Linked DNA regions of Homo sapiens. The protein of the gene in region 1 interacts with the protein of each later gene in a pairwise test. Each region holds a gene or a part of one and is shown in the gene's direction. Other genes may lie near its edges.

Region 1 (7,047 bases):
ACATTTCTTGAGTTTCTTCAAGGGACGTGTCTCCGTGCTAAAGACCTAGAGATTACAACGATGAGTAAGGCACAGGGTCATTTTTATTCCCCCTATGATGGGAATCATAAACATATTTTTTAAATAATGCTTATAACTAAGGAAAAATAAAATCTTCAAAGAAGGTAACATTTTATTCATATTGTTTGTTACCCTGCAGAATTACCAGTTACTGTGGGGTTCATCTGGGACTGACAAACATTCTGAAACAATATTCAAGAAACCTTAGACAAAGATGATGACCCTACACCAATATGACTTAGTGAATTTGTTTTGGGGGGAAATGTAGCACTAAATGCTCTATTTTCCTCTGTACTTGATTTTTAAAATAAATACTATGTTGTTTCTGCAACCAACTTAGTTTAAAAATATTTAGAAGTTTCTATTGATCTATCTCAGTGCTCCTTTGGATAGGTGTTGATCTCCATCAGTAATTTCTTGTGCTTATGTATATGAGTTTAATGGGTGAACTAAGAAGTCATCTTCAAACAGTATTTATAATTTATTATAGGCGTGGATTTGTCCAAGATAGAAAAACATCCAGAAGCAGCAAACCTCCTTCTGAGACTGGATTTTGAAAAAGACATTAAGCAAATGCTTCTGTTTCTTAAAGATGTGGGTATAGAGGATAACCAACTGGGAGCATTCCTGACAAAAAATCATGCAATTTTCTCTGAAGACCTTGAAAATCTGAAGACCAGGTAGGACTTTTAAAAGGATTCTCATATAACCTAAGAAGTGGTTATGAAGGAAATATATGTGGAAGGTATTCTTTAAATCTCTGCTGCACAAGGGTCTACTGAGATAACATGAATTTTTTTTGTTATAGACCTTCTTTGATCTAAATTAAGTATTTACAACAGTTCTTTCATTCAAGTACCCATTCTTCTTCTCCCCCTCCCCCTCCCCCCCTCCTCCTCCTCCTTCTTCTTCTTCTTCTTCTTCTTCTTCTTCTTCTTCTTCTTCTTCTTCTTCTTCTTCTTCTTCTTCTGCCTCAGCCTCCCAAGTAGCTGGGTGACTACAGGTGGCCACCATGCCTGGCTAATTTTTGTATTTTTAGGAGAGATGGGGTTTCGCCACATTGGCCAGGCTGTTCTCGAACTCCTGACCTCAAGTGATCTGCCCATCTTGGCCTCCAAAGTGCTGGGATTTTACAGGCATGAGCCACCCTGCCTGGCTCCATTATTATTTTTATGTTTTCAACTTATTACTGAGTCAGTAATTAACTCTTTCTCTTTAGAAACTGGAATACGTTTTTTTCTTAAAAAAAAAAAAAACCCATCAACAAATAGCTAACTTATCTGAGAGTGCACTTAAAGATATGATCTTTTGTGGTTTTTGTAGTTTTTGTCTGGCCAATTTTTGTTGTTAGACATTTGAGATTGTCTTGGCAAATTACTGTATAATTTGCTTAATCATTTCCGTAAGTTGGCTATTTTGGTTGTTCCTTGTTTTCTTCTTAAGGAGCACTTTTATAAACATCTCTGTACTTCATTCAACATTCAAAGAATTATTGAATTTGTGAAAATAAATACAGTGAGATATTGATCTGTGAGGTAAGAATCCTGCTAGGCATTGGGAATACCACAGAGAACAAGGCAAAACCCCTGTCCCTAAGTTAACATGTTGAATTCATCGTCGCCCCCACCTGTCATTCAACCCAGTCTGTATTCCCAGATTCACTGAATACCCTTTTGCCCAACTCAGAAATACTGGTATTAACTTGCTTTCTCTTCTTTTATCATCTACATCTAATAAATCATGAAAGCCCATCAGTTCTTCTCTTCTTATAGCTCAAATCAGTCATGACATTTCTCTGAATCTTTGCTTTGACTATTTTGCCTCAGTTCCCCATAATATCACACCAAGATTACTGCAATGGTCTCCTAATTGGTCTGCCTCTAGTCATGACCCTCCAGACTGTTCTCCACACTGATGTTGATCCTTACTACATTTCAGAGAGCTTTGCGATTCCTTAAACCATCAGTCTAATGTCTTTTCTCGGAATTAGGAAAAAAAACTAAACAAAAACCTTATTTATTAAATTGAACATTTGAGCCCTTCTATATGTGAGACACTGGCCTAAACTTTAGACATCAAAAACAGTCTTTCCCTTCATGAGAGTGATAGTCTATCACAATACAGAAGGGAGAGAGAATGATTCTAAGAAACTCATCTGACATATCCAGCTCTAGTCTTCTTGGCTGTCAGGAACACTAATTCTCTCTGCAGTCAAAAACCAGCTTGCCCTTTTTGCTCAAGATTTATTCCAAGAAAGCATGAATACCAGGAGGGTAGGGATCATTTCACACGCTGCACCATTATTGTTAATAGCACCTTTGTACATAGGAGTCGCAGAGAGGTTAAATAATTTGCCCAAGATTACACACCGTTAGTATAAGTAGCAGAGTAAGTGGTTTCAACCCCAGTTAATCAAACTCCAGGGTTCTGACTACTACACACTGTCTCTACATTTAATTCTTTGAAGGAAACTTAATAGCTTAAGTTACTTGCTCAAGCCATATATGCTCCTAACAATTGAGGAATATTCTCACGTCGGTAGCATAGTCCATTGATTCCTAAACCTGGCTGGCTATCAAATTAAGCTGTAGAACATTTTTAAAAATTACTTAGAATTTTTTAATAGGTAATGCAGCCACATGTATTCAAAAGAGTATACAGTAAAAAATACTGAATAGGCACAGGTATGAGAACCTTTATTTAAATGAACTTTGTTTCTGGTTCTGATATATGCAGCAGTCTTATTTCTATAACAGCACTGATTTCATGTACTTATTTTTTAAATAAAAAGTTATATTTAAAAAATCCTTGTAGAATTTTCAAATGAATAGTCGCATTTTAATTATTTAAATACTCTTTTTTTGGTTGGGTGGGCCTTATATCTTGATTTTTTATTGGAAAAATCATTACAATGTAGACAATAGTTTTGATAATTTTTTAATCAAATGCTGAACCTTGCTGCCAAAAAAACAAGTAATACCTCCTTTTCTCCTACTTTGTCCCTTGGCCTTTCAAGACCCACCTATCGACACAGCTACTGTTATCAGGATTTTTTGTTCAACCTTCTAGGAAGCATATATCTGTGTATACACACATGAATACAAATACATAACAATTGGTAGCATTTATACACACTATTCTGTATCCCACTATCTTACCTTCACTGTATCTTGGAGATTATTTTTTCTTGGTGCTGCCTATTCTTTTTAACTCTAGTACAGTCCATGCTGCGGATCTCGCTAGTACCTATTGATAAGCATGGAGTATGTTTCCAGTCCACTGTTAGGACAAGGCTGTAGTGACTTACCTTGTACATACTTCTGAAAAATCACACATATTGGTGTCTCTCTGTAGGACGTATTTCTAGAAGTGGAAATGCTAGGTCAAAGGGTGTGTTCATCTGTAACTTCAATAGATATTGCCAAATTGTCCTTCATAGGGGTTGTTTTCCAGTTTATACTCTCCCCAACAGTGTACAGAAGTGCCAGCTTCCCTGTTATCCTTACAGATACAGTGCTATCACACTTTGCTTTCAGTTGATTGTATAGATAAAAAGAGTACTTTATTTGTTGGTTGGAGCATCAGATGTTGAAACATGGAATGTTGTTTGGAGCATCTTTTCATATGTTGAATTTCTGTTTACATTTCCTTTTCTGTAATATATCCTTTGCTATTTTTTAATCAGGCTTTTTTCTTTTTCGGTAAACGTTCTTTTATATATGAAGAAAATTAGTTCTGTCTCTGAGACATGTTGCAGATATTTTTCCTAGATTGTCACTTGTCTTTTGACTTCATTTATAGTGGGGTGTTTTTGTTTTGTTTTGTTTTGCCATGCATTTAAAATTTTTATATACTTAAACGTATAAATATTTTAACTATTTTTAAAGGAGTAATAGTCATGTGATTATAAAGTAATATAAGTTTTGGTATATAGTATAAAAATACCATAGGCTTTAGATGTAGGCATGCCTGAGTTCACATCTTAGTTTTGTCAGTAATTAGGTGATGATCTCAGACAAGTTATTTAACTTCCCTGAATCCATGTTTCCTCATGGAAAATTCACTTGGCTCACAAGTTTTTTTGTTTTTCTGGTTAGAATTAAACAAAATAATATCCTGATATATTTTAGACATTTAGTAAAACCATCTTTTACTATGTTTTAGATTTTTTAAAAATGTTATTTTATAGTCAAACTTTCTATATTTTACTAACTTACATAGTTTGATCTTCAGAAACTTAGCAGGAAAATCTCTCAGTTGACAAAATACATATTGAAAGACTGTAGTAAAAATCATTTATAAAAATACATGCTCAGGCCAGGCATGGTCACTCAAGTGTAATCCCAGCACTTTGGGAGGCTGAGGTGGGCGGATCACTTGAAGTCAGGAGTTCGAGACTAGCCTGGTCAACATGGTGAAACCCCGTCTCTACTAAAAATACAAAAATTAGCTGGGTCTAGTGGTGTGTGCCTGTAATCCCAGCTACTTGGGAGGCTGAGGCAGGAGAGTCACTTGAACCTGGGAGGCGGAGGTTGCATTGAGCCCAGATCATGCCACTGCACTCCAGCCTGGGCAACAGAGCGGGACTCTTCCTGAAAAGAAAAGAATAGAAGAGGGGAGGGGAGGGGCTCAGTAAATATACTAACCTAAAAAATGCCTCTCTCAGTTATAACCATTATTTCCTTAATTTTCTTAATTTGTGTTATTTTCTTAATTTGTGTTTTTCTGTTCTTATCAAAAAAAAAAAAATCTTAAGCAGAAGCTATTTCATTCTTTCTTACCAAGTAATAAACCAGATTAATTGAAAAGAGAATCTAAAGGTTGGTGCAAAAGTAATCATGTTTTTGCTATTGAAAGTAATGGCAAAAACCGCAACTAATACCTATTAGTGGATTTCAGAATTATTTTCTGTTTTTAAGTATAAGTGGAAACCATCTAGAGTTGGGTGAATGCTTGTTTTGTTTTAAACGTGTTTTTGCCATTGTTACAGAATGCTTTTATTTAGTTAGTAATTTAGGGTGTGGGAGCCTTTTTAAAAACAGCTGTTACTTTGGGAAGTAGCATGAGACTCCATCTCAAAAAAAAAGAATGTAAGTGTTTATCACATGCGTATGTATTTATGTTTCTCTAGGGTGGCTTATCTGCATTCAAAAAATTTCAGTAAAGCAGATGTTGCACAGATGGTCAGAAAAGCACCATTTTTGCTGAACTTTTCAGTGGAAAGACTGGATAACAGATTGGGATTTTTTCAGAAAGAACTTGAACTTAGTGTGAAGAAGGTAAAGAAAAGGAGAGAATTTGTTTATTTCCATGTCAGGTACATTTTAATAGCTGATAGATCTCATGTTCCCAGCAGATGCCTGGCCCATGTGAATCATATAAATTCCTGGTATTTTTTGTACAAAAATGAATTATCCTGCTAGTTTAAACATAGAGCTCCATCATTTTATAATACTTAATCAAACTGGTTCCTTCAGTTTTTGTTTTCTTTTTTTCCAAACAGTATTAATCTTATCTATTCCTGGGGTTCCTATCATTTTTCTGATTGGGTCATATTTTAAGTTTTAACTTTGTATCTTAATAATGCCTTAATTTTCCAAACTAGTTAAAGATGCACGTATAGTAATACTAGATTGTTTTGTTTGCAACCACAGACTAGAGATCTGGTAGTTCGTCTCCCAAGGCTGCTAACTGGAAGTCTGGAACCCGTGAAAGAAAATATGAAGGTAGGACAACTTTAGGCTTTTTGAGAAATCAGTTTCTTTAAGTGTTAAAATCCTCTGAAGAGAACAGATTTTGCTATTGTCATGTAAAAGAAAACTAGACTTTAAAATAAGTTATTTCTAAAAAGAGAAATAGGAAATTATCTTTAACAAATGTCTAGCAAGCAGTTTGTTTCAGTTAATATTTTCACGTTGAGCAGGTATTAACCTGAGTAAATCACCTTGCAGACATTGATACCCACAATCCTAAAGCATTAGATAGGGATATAAGTGGTACCCTGAAACTGCTTCTGTTGCCCAGTGTGGGCGTCTGACGTCTTTGTTACCTGGGCAGTGTTACCAGTCTACGAAAGTACTCCTGTTGGCCAGCATGACAGTCTGTGTATGTCTCAGGGAGTTTTGGAGGCTGGATCCAAAAGACTTCTGTGAAAAGAGTAGCAGCCAGCACATTGTTCTCCTTTGCACCTGTCCCAATTGCCAGCTCTCATTCTGTCACAGAATGTACCAGACACTCTTTACTGTCCTTCCTCCAAGAGAATAAGATAAAGCCAAGAGCAGCTGACTAGTTAGTATATAAAGCTGTAGTAGTATTTGAAATATTATATAAGGGCTGTTTTCTGAGGTGAACAGTTCAGTCATTGAAGAAATCTTTTTATTGAGCTCCTGCCCAAGCGCCATGCTGAGGAGACAGCTTCTCCTCCCAAGGAGCTTACAATCTAGTGGGGGATCAAATCCAGAGTGATGGGGGCAGTTACTTGGTGGGGGCACACAGGACACTATGAAAGCAAGTAGAGGACCCGGCCTGTGTTTGGTTGTTTAGTTCCTCATCTCTGCTTGGAATGTTGACATGTCGTTTTTCAGACAACACATATGTGGGTGTACTTGGGAGCAAAAGCTCAAAAAGCATTTTGAAGATCCTGCTGCTGAAGGATCTGTTTGGTGTTGGGCCCATGCCTCTGACCTGCAGCGCTCCCATGTCACTCATTCCCTCTTGTAATTATGGTTGCCCCTTTGGTGAGCTTCATGACCATCATGGTGTAGCTCTTTCTCAGCAGAGGGGTTTGAAATTCTGGTGACCCCAGGAGCCGGAAGCTGTAATTCCTTGAAGGCACTGGCATAGCTGTCTCCAAATTTTAAAATGTTATTTTAAGTTTAAAAGAATCATGGTCAGGCGTGGTGGCTCATGCCTGTAACCCTGGCATGGGAGGCCGAGGTGGGCAGATCACTTGAGGTCAGGAGTTTGAGACCAGCCTGGCCAACATGG
Region 2 (7,947 bases), on another chromosome or scaffold:
GATTACAGAATGGACCTGTGGGGGTCTCAGATTGAGGCCTAACAGCATTTAAAAGGAGCAACTGGTAGAACAGATTTGGGGAAATATTTATGGGTAGAAGAGAATGATAAGTGAGCTACAGAAATAGGTAGAAGCCCATCTAAATATCAGGTAAGTATCAGGGGGGTTATGGAAAATGCTTTGGTACCCGAAAGATACTGAGTGAATGCTATTTGAAGGACCAACAGGAGACAGTGATGGTGCAGGGGAATGTTTAGAGATGGCAGAGAGAAATGTAAGACATCAAGATCAGTACATATTGGGAGTTGAAACTTCGGAAAAATCTCTTGGGGTCCAGTGTGAAATGTGAGAGGTCATGTAAACATTCAGAGGCCCAAGGATCTGGCCTGGCTTCTGAATGACCACCTGCTTCTTCCCCCTGTGTGTGTCCCCAGGTTCCGGAATGAGGACTACACCATACATGTGCAGCTGAATGACTACGTGGACATCATCTGTCCGCACTATGAAGATCACTCTGTGGCAGACGCTGCCATGGAGCAGTACATACTGTACCTGGTGGAGCATGAGGAGTACCAGCTGTGCCAGCCCCAGTCCAAGGACCAAGTCCGCTGGCAGTGCAACCGGCCCAGTGCCAAGCATGGCCCGGAGAAGCTGTCTGAGAAGTTCCAGCGCTTCACACCTTTCACCCTGGGCAAGGAGTTCAAAGAAGGACACAGCTACTACTACATCTGTGAGTGCCTGTGAGGGGACAGTGTCTGTGTTTCTTTTTTGCCATTACATACATGCTTGGGTACATGCTTGGTGTAGAGTCCAGCAGCAGAGGGCCCCTTCCGATCTTGAATTCTATTTTCATTCATCTACATCCCAATGTGAGTGAGCTTCTACTATGTGCTGGGCACTCTGTTTAGCGCTATGAGCACAAAGATAAATAAAACACTACAGAGCCCCTGTCCTCAAGGAAGCTGGGAAGAAACACACATAGGTTAAGAGACCCTTAGAACAGTGTGCTACAGTAGACATGAACACAGGGGCCTTGGGAAAATGACCTGGGCACCTGCCAGGCTATGGGGCTCAGAGAAGGCTCAGTGGGGAAGATGGTCCCAGAGCTCAGGACAAGCAGAGGAGCTGGCCAGGCATGAAGGCACACGTACAAAGGGAGCATGACATCTTCAGGGAACTTCCTGTGGCTCAGCCTGGCTGGAGTTGGAGGGACACAGGAAGTGAGGAGATGTGAGCCTGGAGAGGTGGACAGAACAGACCATGGGGGAACTAAAAGGTGATAAGGAGTTTGGACTTTATCCTGAGGGCTCTCGCCACTGATGGGTTTTATTTTATTTTATTTTATTATTATTATTACTCTTGAGATGGAGTTTCACTCTTGTCGCCCAGGCTGGAGTGCAGTGGTGTGATCTCTGCTCACTGCAACCTCTACCTCTCGGATTCAAGCAATTCTCCTGCCTCAACCTCCCAAATAGCTGGGATTACAGGCACCTGCCACCACGCCCAGCTAATTTTGTATTTTTAGTAGAGATGGGGTTTCACCATGTTGGTCAGACTGGTCTCGAACTCCTGACCTCAAGTGATCTGCCCGCCTCAGCCTCCCAAAGTGCTGGGATTATAGGCATGAACCACCGCGCATGGCCTGATGGATTTTAAAAGTTATGAGATCATCCAGCACTTTGGGAGGCCGAGGTGGGTGGATCACCTAGGGTCAGGAGTTCAAGACCAGCCTGGCCAACATGGTGAAACCCCAACTCTACTAAAAAAATACAAAAATTAGCCGAGTGTGGTGGCGCACTTCTGTAGTCCCAGCTACTCAATAGGCTGAGGCAGGAGGATCGCTTGAACCCAGGAGGTGTGAGGTTACAGTGAGCCGAGATCACACCATTGTACTCCAGCCTGGGTGACAGAGGGAGACTCCGTTTCAAAAAGAAAGTTATGAGATCAGCTTTGTATAAGATGGATCTAGGACTCTGTCGGTGGGGGCTAGGCAGGAGTAGTTTTTGTTTTTTTGTTTTTTTTCTGAGACAGAGTCTCGCTCTGTCGCCCAGACTGGAGTGCAGTGGCACGATCTCGACTTGCTGCAACCTCCACCTCCCGGGTTCAATTGATTCTTCTGCCTCAGCCTCCCGAGTAGCTGGGACTACAGGCATGTGCCACCATGCCCGGCTAATTTTTGTATTTTTAGTAGAGACGGGGTTTCACCATATTGGCCAGGCTGGTCTCGAACTCCTGACCTCGTGATCCGCCCACCTCGGCCTCTCAAAGTGCTGGGATTACATGTGTGAGCCACCGCGCCTGGCCTAGGAGTAGTATTAAGTGGCCCAGGCAAGAGGAACATATTCAGACTCGGAGGAATGAAGGATGAAATGTGGGGAGGGGCAGTGTCTATGCTGAGGGTTATTTCCAAAGAATGAGAGGCTGGGCTGAACATTGGGCAGGAAGTTAGCAAAAACTAAGGAGGGTAGGAATCAAGGTTAGAGGGAAGAGAAGAATGAAATTGAGTAGGGAGCTGAGAAAGCAGGGCGAGGGGCATTTGGACTTACATTTTCTTCCAGCAAAGGTTTCTTATTTAACCCCTGTGGGCTTATCTTGCAGCCAAACCCATCCACCAGCATGAAGACCGCTGCTTGAGGTTGAAGGTGACTGTCAGTGGCAAAATCAGTGAGTGTCAGAGCCCTGTGGGCCTCCTTCCTCCATCTCTATGCTGGGTGCGGTCTAGTGATCTAGGATGGTATAGAAGTCTTGCAGCCCAGCCCACTCATACTTACAGCCCTCTGCCTCTTTGATACAGTACCTGATCTACTACCACTCTTGTCTTTCAGCTCACAGTCCTCAGGCCCATGACAATCCACAGGAGAAGAGACTTGCAGCAGGTGGGTAGCTGGAGCAAACTGGGCCTGGGGCACAGGAAGGGGTCTGCTTGAAGAGGTTGGGTACAGGAGGTGGCTCCTTTACCAGGCTGAGGCTGAGGGAATCCTGTTGGGCTGAGAGCCAGTACAAATAGTGGAGCCACTCACACTGGTGGCCTTTGCCCTCTCACCTTGCAGATGACCCAGAGGTGCGGGTTCTACATAGCATCGGTCACAGTGCTGCCCCACGCCTCTTCCCACTTGCCTGGACTGTGCTGCTCCTTCCACTTCTGCTGCTGCAAACCCCGTGAAGGTGTATGCCACACCTGGCCTTAAAGAGGGACAGGCTGAAGAGAGGGACAGGCACTCCAAACCTGTCTTGGGGCCACTTTCAGAGCCCCCAGCCCTGGGAACCACTCCCACCACAGGCATAAGCTATCACCTAGCAGCCTCAAAACGGGTCAGTATTAAGGTTTTCAACCGGAAGGAGGCCAACCAGCCCGACAGTGCCATCCCCACCTTCACCTCGGAGGGATGGAGAAAGAAGTGGAGACAGTCCTTTCCCACCATTCCTGCCTTTAAGCCAAAGAAACAAGCTGTGCAGGCATGGTCCCTTAAGGCACAGTGGGAGCTGAGCTGGAAGGGGCCACGTGGATGGGCAAAGCTTGTCAAAGATGCCCCCTCCAGGAGAGAGCCAGGATGCCCAGATGAACTGACTGAAGGAAAAGCAAGAAACAGTTTCTTGCTTGGAAGCCAGGTACAGGAGAGGCAGCATGCTTGGGCTGACCCAGCATCTCCCAGCAAGACCTCATCTGTGGAGCTGCCACAGAGAAGTTTGTAGCCAGGTACTGCATTCTCTCCCATCCTGGGGCAGCACTCCCCAGAGCTGTGCCAGCAGGGGGGCTGTGCCAACCTGTTCTTAGAGTGTAGCTGTAAGGGCAGTGCCCATGTGTACATTCTGCCTAGAGTGTAGCCTAAAGGGCAGGGCCCACGTGTATAGTATCTGTATATAAGTTGCTGTGTGTCTGTCCTGATTTCTACAACTGGAGTTTTTTTATACAATGTTCTTTGTCTCAAAATAAAGCAATGTGTTTTTTCGGACATGCTTTTCTGCCACTCCATATTAAAACATATGACCATTGAGTCCCTGCTAAGTGCGAGGCTCTCTGTGCTACAACAGTAGCAACTGGGTTTGAATTTCTTTCTCTCCAAAGAATGTGTGCCCCTCACGAGGCCAAAAGGGTGGGATGTTTCCTCCTCTGAGGGCTGTCCAGGACCGGAGTGCTCCTGACAGCTGTCTCTCGGGTTCTGAGCTGCACTCCACTCTGGAAGTTCTTCCTATCCGACCTCTACCCCACTCCCACTCCGTCACCGCAGGGCTTTGGCATACTACCATTCAGGTACTCACGCTGTTTCGGTGAGTCAGGGAAGCTGGGAACGCCAGCTGAGGCATGCGGCCCCGCCCCACAGCCACACTAGCAGAGACGTGTGGGAGGCTGGGAGGGAAAGTTCCCAGTAACAAGTGGGTTGGACCGGGGGTCAGTGATAGAGGCGTCAGTGGATTGGCCACGTCATGTAAAGTTGACCCGAGAGGGAGGGCAAAAGAGGAAGGCTTGGTGATTCCTGGTAATGTGTTATTTTGAGAAAAAGCTTCGGCAGCACACTCCAGAAAAAAACTTCCCAAACCCTGGGCAACTGAGGTTCTGATGTGGAGCTCTGGATGGAAAGCGTGCTGAAGTCTTGTTAAACTAGCAAGCTTTTGTTTGGAGGTCCACCGCCGAAGGCGCACAGGCCTGTGGGAACACGAGCGTTGAGACTGGGGGCGTCTAGATGATCCAAGGGGTAGGCAGAGTGTGAGCAGCGGCAGGTATCGGGGACACACCCGCGGAGCCCTAGGAAGGGGACTGACCGGGACATGGAAGAGGTCTGGACCAGGGTACTGGGAAGGCGCTCGGAGGAGAGGGGCGCGAGTTCCGGTTCGGCGTCGGAGGGAGGGTGGGGCTTCGGCGCAGTTTCCGGAGGGACGGCCCGAGCGTGCGGGGGCGGAGCCGAGTGCGCGGGGCGGGGCTCCAGAGCCGCAGGTCTGGGCTGCAGTAGGTCCCGGCAACCGCAGGCTCGCGGCGGGCGCTGGGCGCGGGATCCGACTCTAGTCGTAATGGAGGCGGGCGGCTTTCTGGACTCGCTCATTTACGGAGCATGCGTGGTCTTCACCCTTGGCATGTTCTCCGCCGGCCTGTGAGAGTGCGGCCGGGCTGGGTTGGGGAGGACTAGGCAGTCAGGAAAGGAGAGAGAGGGGACAGAGACGTGGCCACAGCACCTGGCTCGTCCGGAACCGGGATCAAAGTGGGATCGGGTCGAGGGGACCGGGGTACAAGGGCGAGGCTGGTCACTAGGCCTGAAGGAGAAGGCAGGATAGCTGGCGGGGGGGAGAGGGGGCGGGGTCTGCGGTGGTCCGGAAAGGATGACAGGCATTGGGCATCCCCCTCTAGCACTCTGCTTCTCCCTTCCCACCCCCACCCCTCCCTTCGGGGCCCCATTACAGCTCGGACCTCAGGCACATGCGAATGACCCGGAGTGTGGACAACGTCCAGTTCCTGCCCTTTCTCACCACGGAAGTCAAGTGAGGGGCCGACGGCTGCGGTAGTGGGAAAGGCTACCAGAGGGAGGTGGGGGCGGGGCAGGAGGAGCAAGAGTGAAAGAGGTTTGGCCGGGCGCGGTGGCTCACGCCTGTAATCCCTGCACTTTGGGAGGCCGAGACGGGCGGATCACGAGGTCAGGAGATCCAGACCATCCTGGCTAACACGGTGAAACCCCGTCTCTACTAAAAATACAAAAAATTAGCCGGGCGTGGTGCCGGGCGCCTGTAGTCCCAGCTACTCGGGAGGCTGAGGCAGGAGAATGGCGTGAACCCAGGAGGCGGAGCTTGCAGTGAGCCGAGATCGTGCCACCGCACTCCAGCCTGGGCGACAGAGCGAGACTACGTCTCAAAAAAAAAAAAAGAGTGAAAGACCCTTTGGGTCCTCCTCTCACACTGAACCCTTTGAGCCATGTCCATCCCCTCCACCCTGCAGCAACCTGGGCTGGCTGAGTTATGGGGCTTTGAAGGGAGACGGGATCCTCATCGTCGTCAACACAGTGGGTGCTGCGCTTCAGACCCTGTATATCTTGGCATATCTGCATTACTGCCCTCGGAAGGTAGAGGCCCTCCCTTGGACCCACCTATCTGCTGCACGCCCTGCCTTGCTGGCAGGGCAAACACTATTTCCTAGAAGACTGTAACAGCTGGCACTGCCACCTTTTCCAGGAAGGCCTCTCCAGCCTTGCAGGTCCCCTTCCTCTATGAAGCCAGCCTTCTGAGATGAACACATTGCCCCCATTTAGGCAAGGCTGGTAGCTCTGCCTAGCCTGAGATGCCTATGCTGCCTGCCCTGGGCTTCAGCCAACAAGCTAAGGGGAAAGGGCTTTTGTCTCTGATATTTCTTTCAGAGCCAGGGCCTGTGGGTGAGAATGAGATGATTAGCTCTGCGTCCCTGCTAAATCACACAAGCATTTATGAAGCTCCTACTGTGTGTGCCAAGCACACAGAAAAAAACACATATTTATCTCCCCCAGAAGTCTCCAGTGTTGTGGGTGGATAAGACTTTCCTATCAAGTTGGTGGTGGGAAAGAAGCTGTGACAGTGCAGTGCTGGAGGCCTAGACAGCTTGGCTTCCCCATTGGAGCACTGGAGAAGGCAGGATGAATTAACTCTAGCAGGGAAGTCAGAGTGCACATCTGGAAGTAAGGGTACTCTCTCCCCTGCAGCGTGTTGTGCTCCTACAGACTGCAACCCTGCTAGGGGTCCTTCTCCTGGGTTATGGCTACTTTTGGCTCCTGGTACCCAACCCTGAGGCCCGGCTTCAGCAGTTGGGCCTCTTCTGCAGTGTCTTCACCATCAGCATGTACCTCTCACCACTGGCTGACTTGGTGAGTGGGGGTGTCCAAGGAGGTAGGAGAGATAAGAGTCAGGCTCTCATAGCCAAATACTATGGCTTACAGTCCCGAGGAAGGGGAGATCCAAACCCTGGAAGAAGACAAGGCAGTAGAAGTGGGCGAGTGGGAGGCAGGAAAGGTTGGGTGACAGATCAGGGAGGGTGTCTGACCTTTTTCTTGAGGAAATTCTTAGGCAAGTGAAGCTTTACGATGTGCTTGGGCCAAGAGAGTCTTCCATTCTTTCCCACAGGCTAAGGTGATTCAAACTAAATCAACCCAATGTCTCTCCTACCCACTCACCATTGCTACCCTTCTCACCTCTGCCTCCTGGTGCCTCTATGGGTTTCGACTCAGAGATCCCTATATCATGGTAAGCACAACTGGGATGGGGTGACAGGGGTGCAAGATGGAAAACTGGCTCCTCTCCTCATAGCAGTTCTTGTGATTTCAGGTGTCCAACTTTCCAGGAATCGTCACCAGCTTTATCCGCTTCTGGCTTTTCTGGAAGTACCCCCAGGAGCAAGACAGGAACTACTGGCTCCTGCAAACCTGAGGCTGCTCATCTGACCACTGGGCACCTTAGTGCCAACCTGAACCAAAGAGACCTCCTTGTTTCAGCTGGGCCTGCTGTCCAGCTTCCCAGGTGCAGTGGGTTGTGGGAACAAGAGATGACTTTGAGGATAAAAGGACCAAAGAAAAAGCTTTACTTAGATGATTGATTGGGGCCTAGGAGATGAAATCACTTTTTATTTTTTAGAGATTTTTTTTTTTAATTTTGGAGGTTGGGGTGCAATCTTTAGAATATGCCTTAAAAGGCCGGGCGCGGTGGCTCACGCCTGTAATCCCAGCACTTTGGGAGGCCAAGGTGGGCGGATCGCCTGAGGTCAGGAGTTCAAGACCAACCTGACTAACATGGTGAAACCCCATCTCTACTAAAAATACAAAATTAGCCAGGCATGATGGCACATGCCTGTAATCCCAGATACTTGGGAGGCTGAGGCAGGAGAATTGCTTGAACCCAGGAGGTGGAGGTTGCAGTGAGCTGAGATCGTGCCATTGTGATATGAATATGCCTTATATGCTGATATGAATATGCCTTAAAATAAAGTGTTCCCCACCCCTG
Region 3 (2,909 bases), on another chromosome or scaffold:
ATTCTTGCCAGTATACATTGGATGATATTTTAACCTACTGGTGCCTGAAGTTCGTGTTTTATAACCTCAACAACTATAAAACATCCTGGTGCTATTCACTTTAGCATTGAGTGACATTTTTAATTCCTGTACCAAAGAGTTAATTTTCTTTTTGGTTGACTGAGTTTTCTTCTCACATCGTTGTGTATTTATAAAGTAGAATTTAATGTTACTAAGAACAGTTTGATTAACAGATCTTATTTTTTGCATGCTGCTCTGGCAATTTAATGGATTTTAAATGTTTCTCATTTGGATTTTTTTTTAGGTAGGCATGTATGGATTTTAATTTTGTATTTTAATATAGCTTGGCTACTTTAAAAGGTAGTTTGATAGGCTGAAATTACAAAAGATAATTGAAGCACTTTTCACAAGTTGTTTTATTTCTGCAACAATGAATAAAAAGGTAAGAACTCTAATTTATATAAATGAACTATATAGCTTATTGGGCACTTTAGTGAATACTGAAACAAAATACTAAGATGAAGAGTTAAGGTTCGTTCTCATTACAAATCGAGTTCAGCGTGTGTGTGTGTGTGTGTGTGTGTGTGTGTGTGTGTGTAATCTTTAGTGGCTTTAAAGAATAATATTGCCATTTGTCTACTTTGCAAATAAAGATAACAGAACACCTTTAAAATATATGTATGTGTACATATGTGTGTGTAGATATATAGAGAGAGAGATACGGAGAGACAGACAGACAGAGAGAGAGACAGAGAGAGAGATGCTTTCCCAAGAGGAAATGCATATGTACCTTGATTTAAGCAAAACTGATAACAGAAAATTGAACTTAATGAAAGAAAAAAGTCTGGATATGGTTACTCACTTTACATAGAGTAAGATTTTTAAAACTAATTTTGCTTAGTAGTTAATTTTACAAAAATGAAGAGAAACACCCTTTAAGTGTACTCGTAATTTAAAACACCTTTGAAATGTAATTGTCCAAATGTAATGCTGCTATGTATATTATTTGGGTTCCAGATTTTTCCCTTTAAAATTCTCAAAACACTCAGTGTCCTTACAACTGCAGCTAAAATGGTTAATCATTCTGGCAAGAAGGTGACAGTGTGTATATTGGAAAGGCAGACATTCACATTTGAAAATATTTTGCATTATTGTTAGCTAAAATCAACCTCTCCTTGAATGTAGATACAATATATGGTTTTGCAGTCAATTCTGAATGGAAAAAAAGAATCAAGTCTGAAATTTATGTGAAATGTGGCTTCAGATCATTTGAACGATATGTAGAAATCTAGATGAACATATCATTAGAGGTGAAAGCAAAATTTGAAAGCCTAATGAGATGAAGCAACATTATCTCTCTCTAATCTGCCAACAATATTCCCTAGATTGTGTTGCCACTGTATTGATTCTGAGTAATTTGGCTTGTTTATGCGTGATTTAAATGCATGTGGCTGAATGCAGTAATTTTTCAAGTTATTGAGTAGTAGAGAATTCACCACTATTCACTGTCTCCCAGAGATGAACATATAAAAGAAAAAAAATTCTACTTCATATATGTAAGAATAAAGCAACTAAATGATACAAAAGTAAAAACTTCCACCAGAATCAGAGATATTCCGACAAGTGAATTGTGAGTCTAACACGGGAGGACAAAGCTAGGCTCTTGCAAGGACAGAGCACACGTGGATCATGCTGTATGAGCTCACTTTGTGTCCCTGGAATTAGTGTTTTTTTGTGTGTGATCTAACTGGCAAGTTTAATGAATAGCCAAAATCTATGTTATTCTTGAGGCTCCTAAAATTATGTGTGAACCCCAAGTTCTGTCTAGTATTATATCCCTAAAATGCTTTTAATAGTGGTATGTTACAAGTGGCATAAGAAGATCCTGTTTTTAAATTTGTCAGGCATTTTATTATTCAGTACATAATATGTATAGATCTGAGTGCTGTTTTCCTTGCATTGTCTATTATTTTTACCTTGTCTTTCCCCTAAGAGAATTTGAAGAAAATCTTCACCAATATTTCTAGTGTTGATGGTAATTAGGAAAATAGTAGTTGAGAGATGTAAGAATAGTTTGAGAAGAGTGAGTAAAATGGGTGAAATGACAAGTGGGAACCATGTAGCTGAGATGTATTTGTTTAGATGAAAAGTCTACACTGGTTCTTAATGTGAAAATCAAACCATGTATCTACCTTAAGAACAATGTTGTTGTTTTTAATTTATTGTAGCGATTTAGTTTTTTTCACGTAATATTTCTATTTTCTTTGCAGATTGTTTTTAATTTAAATTGTGGAATTTTTACTTCTCAAAATGTATTAAGTACTGTATTTTTTGAAATCTTATTTTTAAATAAATATTTTTTAAAAACGTAGGACTGTTTTTATCCTCTTACCTTTCTTACTTAGGAAAATTAACCCAAATTCTAGATTTCAGCACTACCAATGTAATAGGTCACTTTTAAAAATTTTATACAATGTGGATAATTATTCATGATTACTAGCCTTAGGATATTGTTCTGCCATAATCACAAAATTCATTAAGTATTCAAAAAGAACTAGGTGTACATACTAGGGCTGAAATTGACAAACGCAGTATTTCTAGTTAGGCATGTTTATCTTAGAGATGACGCAGATGGCTGGATTCAGTCACCCAATTTATTTAACATTTATTGTGGCAGACACTATTTTATAGCAGTATTTTTTCTTGAGGGGAATAATTTACTTACAGTAAAATGCAGAAACTTTAAGTTTACACCTAGGCACTATTTTAGATCTGGCAATATTGAATTAAAGCCTGTGCTCCTATGAAGTTGGCCAAAAAAAATCATCAGCTCTGAAAAGACAAATCAATCAGCAGGTCTTAAAGACAGTGAGTTAGTAGAAACTGCCCTGAGATTGAAAGACAGAGGT
Region 4 (7,058 bases), on another chromosome or scaffold:
AACCTCTGCCTCCTGGGTTCAAGTGATTCCCCTGTCTCAGCCTCCCGAGTAGCTGGGACTACAGGCGTATGCCACCACGCCCAGCTAATTTTTTTTTTTTTTTTTTTTGAGACGGAGTCTCACTCTTTCACCTGGGCTGGAATGCAGTGGCTCGATCTTGGCTGACTGCAACCTCCGCCTCCCAGGTTCAAGCAATTCTCCTGCCTCAGCCTCCCGAGTAGCTGGGATTACAGGCCAGGCTGGTCTTGAACTCCTGACCTCGTGATTCGCCTGCCTCAGCCTCCCAAAGTGCTGGGATTACAGGCTTAAGTCACCATGCCCGGCCACTAATTTTTTGTATTTTAGTAGAGACGGGGTTTCACCATGTTGGCCAGGATGGTCTCAATCTCCTGACCTTGTGATCCGCTCACCTTGGCCTCCCAAAGTGCTGGGATTACAGTCATGAGCCACAGCGCCCAGCTGACAAACATTTTTTATTTTATTAATAAAACATGTTTTATTAATAAAATAAATTAACAATTGTATTAATTATGTAACCATTCCCATAAACAAGATATGGAATGATTCTATCATGCCTCCAGATTTCCCCGTGCCTCTTAGTAGTAACTCTCTGCCCACCAATCCCCTGGCAACCACTGATCTTTTTTTTGTCCTTAACAGTTTTGCCTTTGCAAAAATGTCACATAAAGGGAATCCTGCAGTCTCTAGACATTTGAGTCTGGCATCTTTCACTTTGCATAATACACTTGAGGGTCACCCATATTGTTGAGTGTATCCACTGTTCATTGCTTTTTATTCCTGAGTAGTGTTTATTCCTGAGTAGTGCACAGTTTATACCCTCCCAACTTGAGGAGCATTTAGGTTGTTTCCACGTTTGGGTTATTACGAATAAAACTGCTCCAAATATTTCTGTTCAGGGTTGGGCTCGGTGGCTCATGCCTGTAATCCCAACACTTTGGGAGGCCGAGGCAGGCGGATCACCTGAGGTCAGGAGTTCAAGACCAGCCTGGCCAACATGGTGAAACCCCGTCTCTACTAAAAATACAAAAATTAGCCCGGCATGGCAGCGGGCACCTGTAATCCCAGTTACTCATGAGACTGAGGCAGGAGAATCACTTGAACCCAGGAGGCAGAGGTTGCAGTGAGCCAAGATCGCACCACTGCACTCCAGCCTGGGTGACATAGCAAGACTCCGTCTCAAAAATAAATAAATAAAGAAAGAAAAGAAATAAAACTTCTGTACAGGTTTTTCTGTGAGTAAACTTTTCACTTTTTTTTTTTTTTTTTGACACTGTCGCCCAGGCTGGAGTGCAGTGGTGCCATCTCGGCTCACCGCAACCTCCACCTTCTGGGTTCAAGTGATTATTCTCCTGCCTCAGCCTCCCGAGTAGCTGGGATTACAGGCACCCACCACCACGCCCGGCTAATTTTTTTTGTATTTTTAGTAGAGACTGGGTTTCTCCATGTTGGCCAGTCTGTTCTTGAACTCCTGACCTCAAGCAATCCACCGCCTCAGCCTCCCAAAGTGCTGGGATTACAGACGTAAACCACCGTGCCCAGCCTAGCCATATTAATAGATGTGTAGAAGTATCTCATTCTAATTTTAATTTGTACTTCTCTCTCTCTCTTTTTTTTTTCTTTTAACAGTCTCACTTGGTTGCCCAGGCTGAAGTGCATTGGTGCAATCCTGGCTCACTGCAGCCTTGAATTCCTGGGCTCAAGCAATCCTCCAGCCTCAGCTTCCCAAGCAGCTGGGGTCACAGGTACACACCACATCACACCCAGCTTGTATTTCTGACTAATGATGTTGGGCATCTTTTCTTTTCTTTCTTTCTTTCTTTTTTTTTTTTTTTTTTTTTTTTTGAGACAGAGTCTCGTTCTGTCGCCCAGGCTGGAGTGCAGTGGCGCGATCTCGGCTCACTGCAAGCTCCGCCTCCCGGGTTCACGCCATTCTCCTGCTTCAGCCTCCCGAGTAGCTGGGACTACAGCCACTACACCCGGCTAATTTTTTTTTTTTTTTTTTTGTATTTTTACTAGAGATGAGGTTTCACCGTGTTAGCCAGGATGGTCTCAATCTCCTGACCTCATGATCTGCCCGTCTCGGCCTCCCAAAGTGCTGGGATTATAGGCGTGAGCCACCGCGGATGCTGGGCATCTTTTTATGTGCTGAGTTGCCGTGTGTATATCTTCTTTGGTGAGGTGTATAACTATTCAAATCTTTTGCCCATTTTTTAAAAAGTGGGTCCTCTTATTATTATTGAGTTCGAACGTTCTTTATTTGGGATGCAAGTTCTTTAGATCTATGCTTTGCAAATATTTTCTCCCAGACTATCGTTTGTCTTTTCATACATTCTTTTAACAATGTCTTTTAAAGAACAGAAGTTCTTAATTTTGATAAAGTCCAGTTTATCAATTGTTTCTTTTATGAATCATGTTCTTCATGATTTTTTTTTTTTTTTTTTTTTTTTGAGACGGAGTCTCGCTCTGTTGCCAGGCTGGAGTGCTGTGGCGCGATCTCGGCTCACTGCAACCTCCACCTCCTGGGTTCAAGTGATTCTCCTGCCTCAGCCTCCCAAGTAGCTGGGACTACAGGAGCTCGCCACCACGCCCGGCTAATTTTTGTATTTTTAGTAGAGACCGGGTTCACCATGTTGGCCAGGATGGTCTCAATCACTTGACCTTGTGATCCATCCACCTTGGCCTCCCAAGGTGCTGGGATTACAGGCGTGAACCACTGCGCCCGGCCTTCTCTTGTGCTTTCTTCTAAAAGTTTTATATAGTCATAGTAGACACCTTATAAGTGTGCTGGATTAAATGTGAAAATGTATGTAAAGCCCTTAGCACAAGGCCTGGTAGAGACTAAACAATCAGCTGAGCCTAAGATGGACATTGACTATGTAATTTTTATAAGGAGCACCCTCAGGCCCAGCACACATTTCCTCCACACAGATGTTGTGTCCTGTCATCACAGAATGGCAGGATACCAGAGAAGCAAAAGCCTCCACCCATATCCTCATCCAACCTGCTCCTGGAACCAGTGAAGGTGACTGCAGACATAGAGAGGCCATAGAGCTACAGGGCAGCAGGAGAGCCAGCCCTGGAAGGTGGCCCTTCCCCTGCAGGGAGCACTCCTCCATCTAGCCTCCGTTTCCATGAAACCTGGAGGTCTAGCCCAAGCTGTGATGGGGTGATGGGGACTAGGCTCTGTTTACTGAGCACCTACTGTATGCTAGGCCCTTGGGTAAGGCATTGAATAAGTTAGACAACACCTGGGCCTCGGGAGCTCACAGACTAGCAGCAGAAGAGGCCATGAACAAATGATTGCGTAATTAATTGCTAGATTCAGGAAAGGGGCAACGTTCTGGGGTAGGAGGGGATGGGGAAGAGGAAGTCTCAGCCGCCGCCTCTGTGCCAGGCCCCTCCAGGCTGGGGGTGGGAGGGTGCGCGGGCACAGGGACACACATGACGTCATCGTAAGAGGCAGGGGAAGGGTGGTCCTGGGAGGTGGGGGCTGCTCTGGAGGGCTGTAAGAGAGGGTCATTCACTCGTGGTTCATTCATTCGAGAAATATTCATGCGGCGCCTACTGCGTACCAAGCACCCTCTAAGAAGGACGAACACAGCTCCTGCCCTCTCATTATATTTGGGGCCGACAAAGTGGCAGGAAACAGCCAAACAAATCAAGCGTGAAGATGGTTTCAGCAGAGCCGACGGCTCAGAGGGGCTGCGACCGGGGCAGGGGACCGGGGATGCGGGGCAGGGACACGGCCCACACTTGCTGTGCACGCACCGCCCTCCCCCAAACACTTTGCAAAGAGGTCACCGCACTGGCTGCGAGCGCGCCCTGAGCCCCGGGCCGCAGCACGCGCGCCCCCGCGCCCGAGGTCGCGCGCTGCCCAGCCCCCCGCCCGCGCCCCGCGAGCTGCGCCCGCCGCGCACGACGCCCCCTCGCGGGAGCCCTGGGCCGCCGGCCGCGCGCGCAGGGGAGGGGGCGGGGGCGCCGCGCACGCGCACGGGCCGGCGGCGCGCGCCGAGCGGGGGGCACCGCGCGGGTGCAGCCACGATGGAAGGGGGTGCGTACGGAGCGGGCAAAGCCGGGGGCGCCTTCGACCCCTACACCCTGGTCCGGCAGCCGCACACCATCCTGCGCGTCGTGTCTTGGGTAAGGACGGACTGGCCGACGGCTCTGCCAGGCCGGGGTGGTGGGGGTGTGAGCAAAGGCGGCGCGCCCGGACCGACCCCGACCCCGACCCCAACGGGCCCCCGGCGGCGGCGCGGCGGCGGGCGAGGAGCTGTCCTGCCTGCGGGGCCCGCTGCCGCCGCTCCTCCTTCCCGGGCCCGGGGCGGGCGGGATCCCTGGTGCTCGCGGGAGACGCCGCTCCGGCTCCCGGAGCCCTGGTTTCCTGGGGCCCCCGGTTCGTGCGCCCCCCTTCCCGCCCCGATTGCTGTGACCTCCAGGCCGCGGCTATGCCGCGAAAGGCTCGGATTGTGCGCGGCCGCCAGGGCGGACTGGGGACCGTGGGGACGGAGCCAGGGTTTAAGGTGGCCTTTTTTGGGGGGTGGATCAGGGCGTGGACCATCTCGGTGGGGTGCATGCCGCGCCTGCGATGGACGTTGGAGGAGGAGAGGGCCGGGAACCGGGTTCGTATTGCCTAGCCCGGCCCGTGTGGAGCGATGAGTCGGGAACTGAGTACCTCTCTTCCACCCGGGAACTGCCTCTCCTTCTCTGCGTGACCTTGGGCTGGGAGCCACCCAGGAAATGTTCTCGAGAAATGAGGACTTCAATTCCGAGGTGGGGAGTGTCATCTCCTCTCTCATGCCTCAGTTTCCCAATTTATAGACAAGGTGGGCGGAGCCTTCTTGAGGCCCCCTTGGGCTCTGACATTTCATGAACCGGTAACACCCCTCCCACTCAGCATGCACCTGGATGCCCAAGGCGGGTGTCTGGGAGAAAGGTCTGCTCCCACAGTGAAGAGGCCAGGGTGGCCTCCAGCCTAGCTGGGGGGCAGGGTCCTCAGTGCAGAGGGCTGAGTGGGCTCTTGTTCAGACGGGTGGTCAGGGAGAGGATGGGTCAGAGACAGTGAGCACAGAGGGAGGGGTTCAGGTGCCTTGAGTGGCACCTCATGGAAAGAAGCCCTGCTGGGGTCTGGAGAGGGGGTTTCTGGGGCTCCCTGGGTTTGGCTGGCTGTATCCCAGAAACTCCCACTCGAGGTTCTGGCCTCTGCAGGCCTGGGGCCCGTTCCTTGTGGGCTTAGACTAGGAATGGGCTAGACTGTCAGGGACCCCAGGGGCTACCCCAAGGCCAGCTGTGACCTCAGGGTGCCCAAGCTTCCTCCTTTCCTTGGTTTTCAGGGTCTGGTTGGTAGGATGGCTTGGGTATGTATCCCTGGTCTGCGAAGGATGACCCCATTTAAAGCCTTTTCTTCTCAAATGCCGTCAGATGGGAGCTGTTTGAGGGCAGGAAAGCCCAGTTCCTTTAACCCTTGTGTCGGTGCCTGCACAGAGCCGGGCACCCCAGCACATCTGTGTTTGTGGCTCTGAATTCATTTATCTGTGCCAGTCTCCTGCTCCCCAGATGCCCCAACAGACCCTTGCCAAAGGTGGGAGCCCTGGGGGGCACCTGCCGGATCAGGCGGGTGGGCTGCGTTCACTGCTTTAGTCTGCCCACCCCTGGGCCTCTGGCCTGGAAGGGCGAAGCCACTGGCTTTGTGAGGGGGCTTGTCTGCTTGGGTCATTTCTGCCTCTGATGCCTTCATTTAGCAAAGCTTTATTGAATCTGCTGGGCCCCAAGGGAAGGCAGCGTGACTCAGAAGCAGCCCTTGTTCTCGGGAAGCCACAGTCCCACTGGGGAGTGAGCCAGGTGCCCCCAGGCAGAGGCCGCAAGAGCCAGGAGAGGGGTCTCCCTGCTGTGGAATCAAATTTCATGGTGAAGGTGATGTCAGATTGGGCCTGGTGGGATGAGGGTTTATACATATGCACATCCAGGGGAGAGGACGTGGAAAGCAGGAGGAAGGATCAGCCCCTCTGAGCACCCATGGGGTGCAAGACCACACACAGCTACCTAGCTGGTTCCCCAACACTAGAGGAAGCTGCGGCTCAGCGAGCGAGGCCAAGTGCCTGGCCCAAAGTCACTAAGCATGTAAGTGGCAGACGAGCATTTGAGCCTAGGTCTTCCTGTCTCCAAAGAGTAGTTCTCCCCCTGGGGCAGGGAAGAATCCAGAATCCTGGAATGTCAGGATTGGAAAGGACACAAAGGTCACCTGGACCAACCAATGCTCAAACGACCCCACAGCCTCCCAGTCCTGCTCACACACGTGGATACAAGGCGCTCACTACCTTTGTCGAACCAAGAGGTGTCTGATACAGGCTGATTGACACCTTTAAAAGTAGCTTTTTTTCCTGATCAGAGTAATACCTGCCAATTATTGGAAAGTATAAAAATCACATGTGATGGTTGCACGGTAGGAATGTACTTAACACCACTGAAATGGTGAAGATGGTAAATTGTATGTTACGTGTGTTTTACCACAACAGAAAAAGTTTGGTGGGGGGTGGTAATCATGTGATACCACCACTTAGGGAGGGCTGCAGTGAATAGGGTGCTGTCTCCTTCTGGTCTTTTCGAAACTGTGTGGCGTGCTGAGCCATTTAAACACATCAGGAGCTGCGGGGGATGCAGCTGGCGCCTGCTCTTGGCCCTCACACCACAGGGCAGAGCAAGTGAAGCTGAGCTCCAGGACCAGGGTGACCCGTTTATCCTGGTGTGCTGGAACTTCCTGCCTTTAGCATTCTGAGAGGCCCTTAGTCCAGACAAACAGGGACAATTTGTCACCCTGTCCAGGACTCCTGGACAACCCAGACCCCTACCACAGCCCTGGAGGGGCCCTAACAGCATGTGCACATGAACCTGTGATTGTTTTTTTTCTTTTTTTGAGATGGAGTCTTGCTCTGTTGCCCAGGCTGGAGTACAATGGTGCCATCTCGGCTCATTGCAACCTCCGCCTCCCAGGTTCAAGCAACTCTACTGCCTCGGCCTCCCAAGTAGCTGGGACTACAGGC

What was found.
Region 2: the proteins of MTERF3 (region 1) and SLC50A1 interact in binary tests that used the Homo sapiens proteins (3 or more experiments, as listed by UniProt).
Region 3: the proteins of MTERF3 (region 1) and ZDHHC21 interact in binary tests that used the Homo sapiens proteins (3 or more experiments, as listed by UniProt).
Region 4: the proteins of MTERF3 (region 1) and SYNGR1 interact in binary tests that used the Homo sapiens proteins (3 or more experiments, as listed by UniProt).

Annotation. Positions count from the first base shown.
Region 1 is NC_000008.11:96,244,599-96,251,645, reverse strand, and holds part of MTERF3 (transcription termination factor 3, mitochondrial isoform 1 precursor), read left to right. Parts: intron 1-550; coding exon 551-740; intron 741-5,191; coding exon 5,192-5,339; intron 5,340-5,714; coding exon 5,715-5,786; intron 5,787-7,047.
Region 2 is NC_000001.11:155,130,905-155,138,851, forward strand, and holds the start of SLC50A1 (sugar transporter SWEET1), read left to right. Parts: upstream 1-4,947; 5' UTR 4,948-5,007; coding exon 5,008-5,087; intron 5,088-5,394; coding exon 5,395-5,472; coding exon of another isoform or gene 5,473-5,492; intron 5,493-5,923; coding exon 5,924-6,047; intron 6,048-6,656; coding exon 6,657-6,818; intron 6,819-7,074; coding exon 7,075-7,194; intron 7,195-7,257; coding exon of another isoform or gene 7,258-7,269; exon of another isoform or gene 7,270-7,275; coding exon 7,276-7,377; 3' UTR 7,378-7,947. Other genes in the region: EFNA1 (ephrin-A1 isoform a precursor), read left to right, coding at 435-730, 2,599-2,664, 2,826-2,876, 3,051-3,163. UniProt on the Homo sapiens protein: Mediates sugar transport across membranes. May stimulate V(D)J recombination by the activation of RAG1.
Region 3 is NC_000009.12:14,610,533-14,613,441, reverse strand, and holds the end of ZDHHC21 (palmitoyltransferase ZDHHC21), read left to right. Parts: 3' UTR 1-2,371; downstream 2,372-2,909. UniProt on the Homo sapiens protein: Palmitoyltransferase that catalyzes the addition of palmitate onto various protein substrates. Palmitoylates sex steroid hormone receptors, including ESR1, PGR and AR, thereby regulating their targeting to the plasma membrane.
Region 4 is NC_000022.11:39,345,949-39,353,006, forward strand, and holds the start of SYNGR1 (synaptogyrin-1), read left to right. Parts: upstream 1-4,042; 5' UTR 4,043-4,062; coding exon 4,063-4,161; intron 4,162-7,058. UniProt on the Homo sapiens protein: May play a role in regulated exocytosis. Modulates the localization of synaptophysin/SYP into synaptic-like microvesicles and may therefore play a role in synaptic-like microvesicle formation and/or maturation.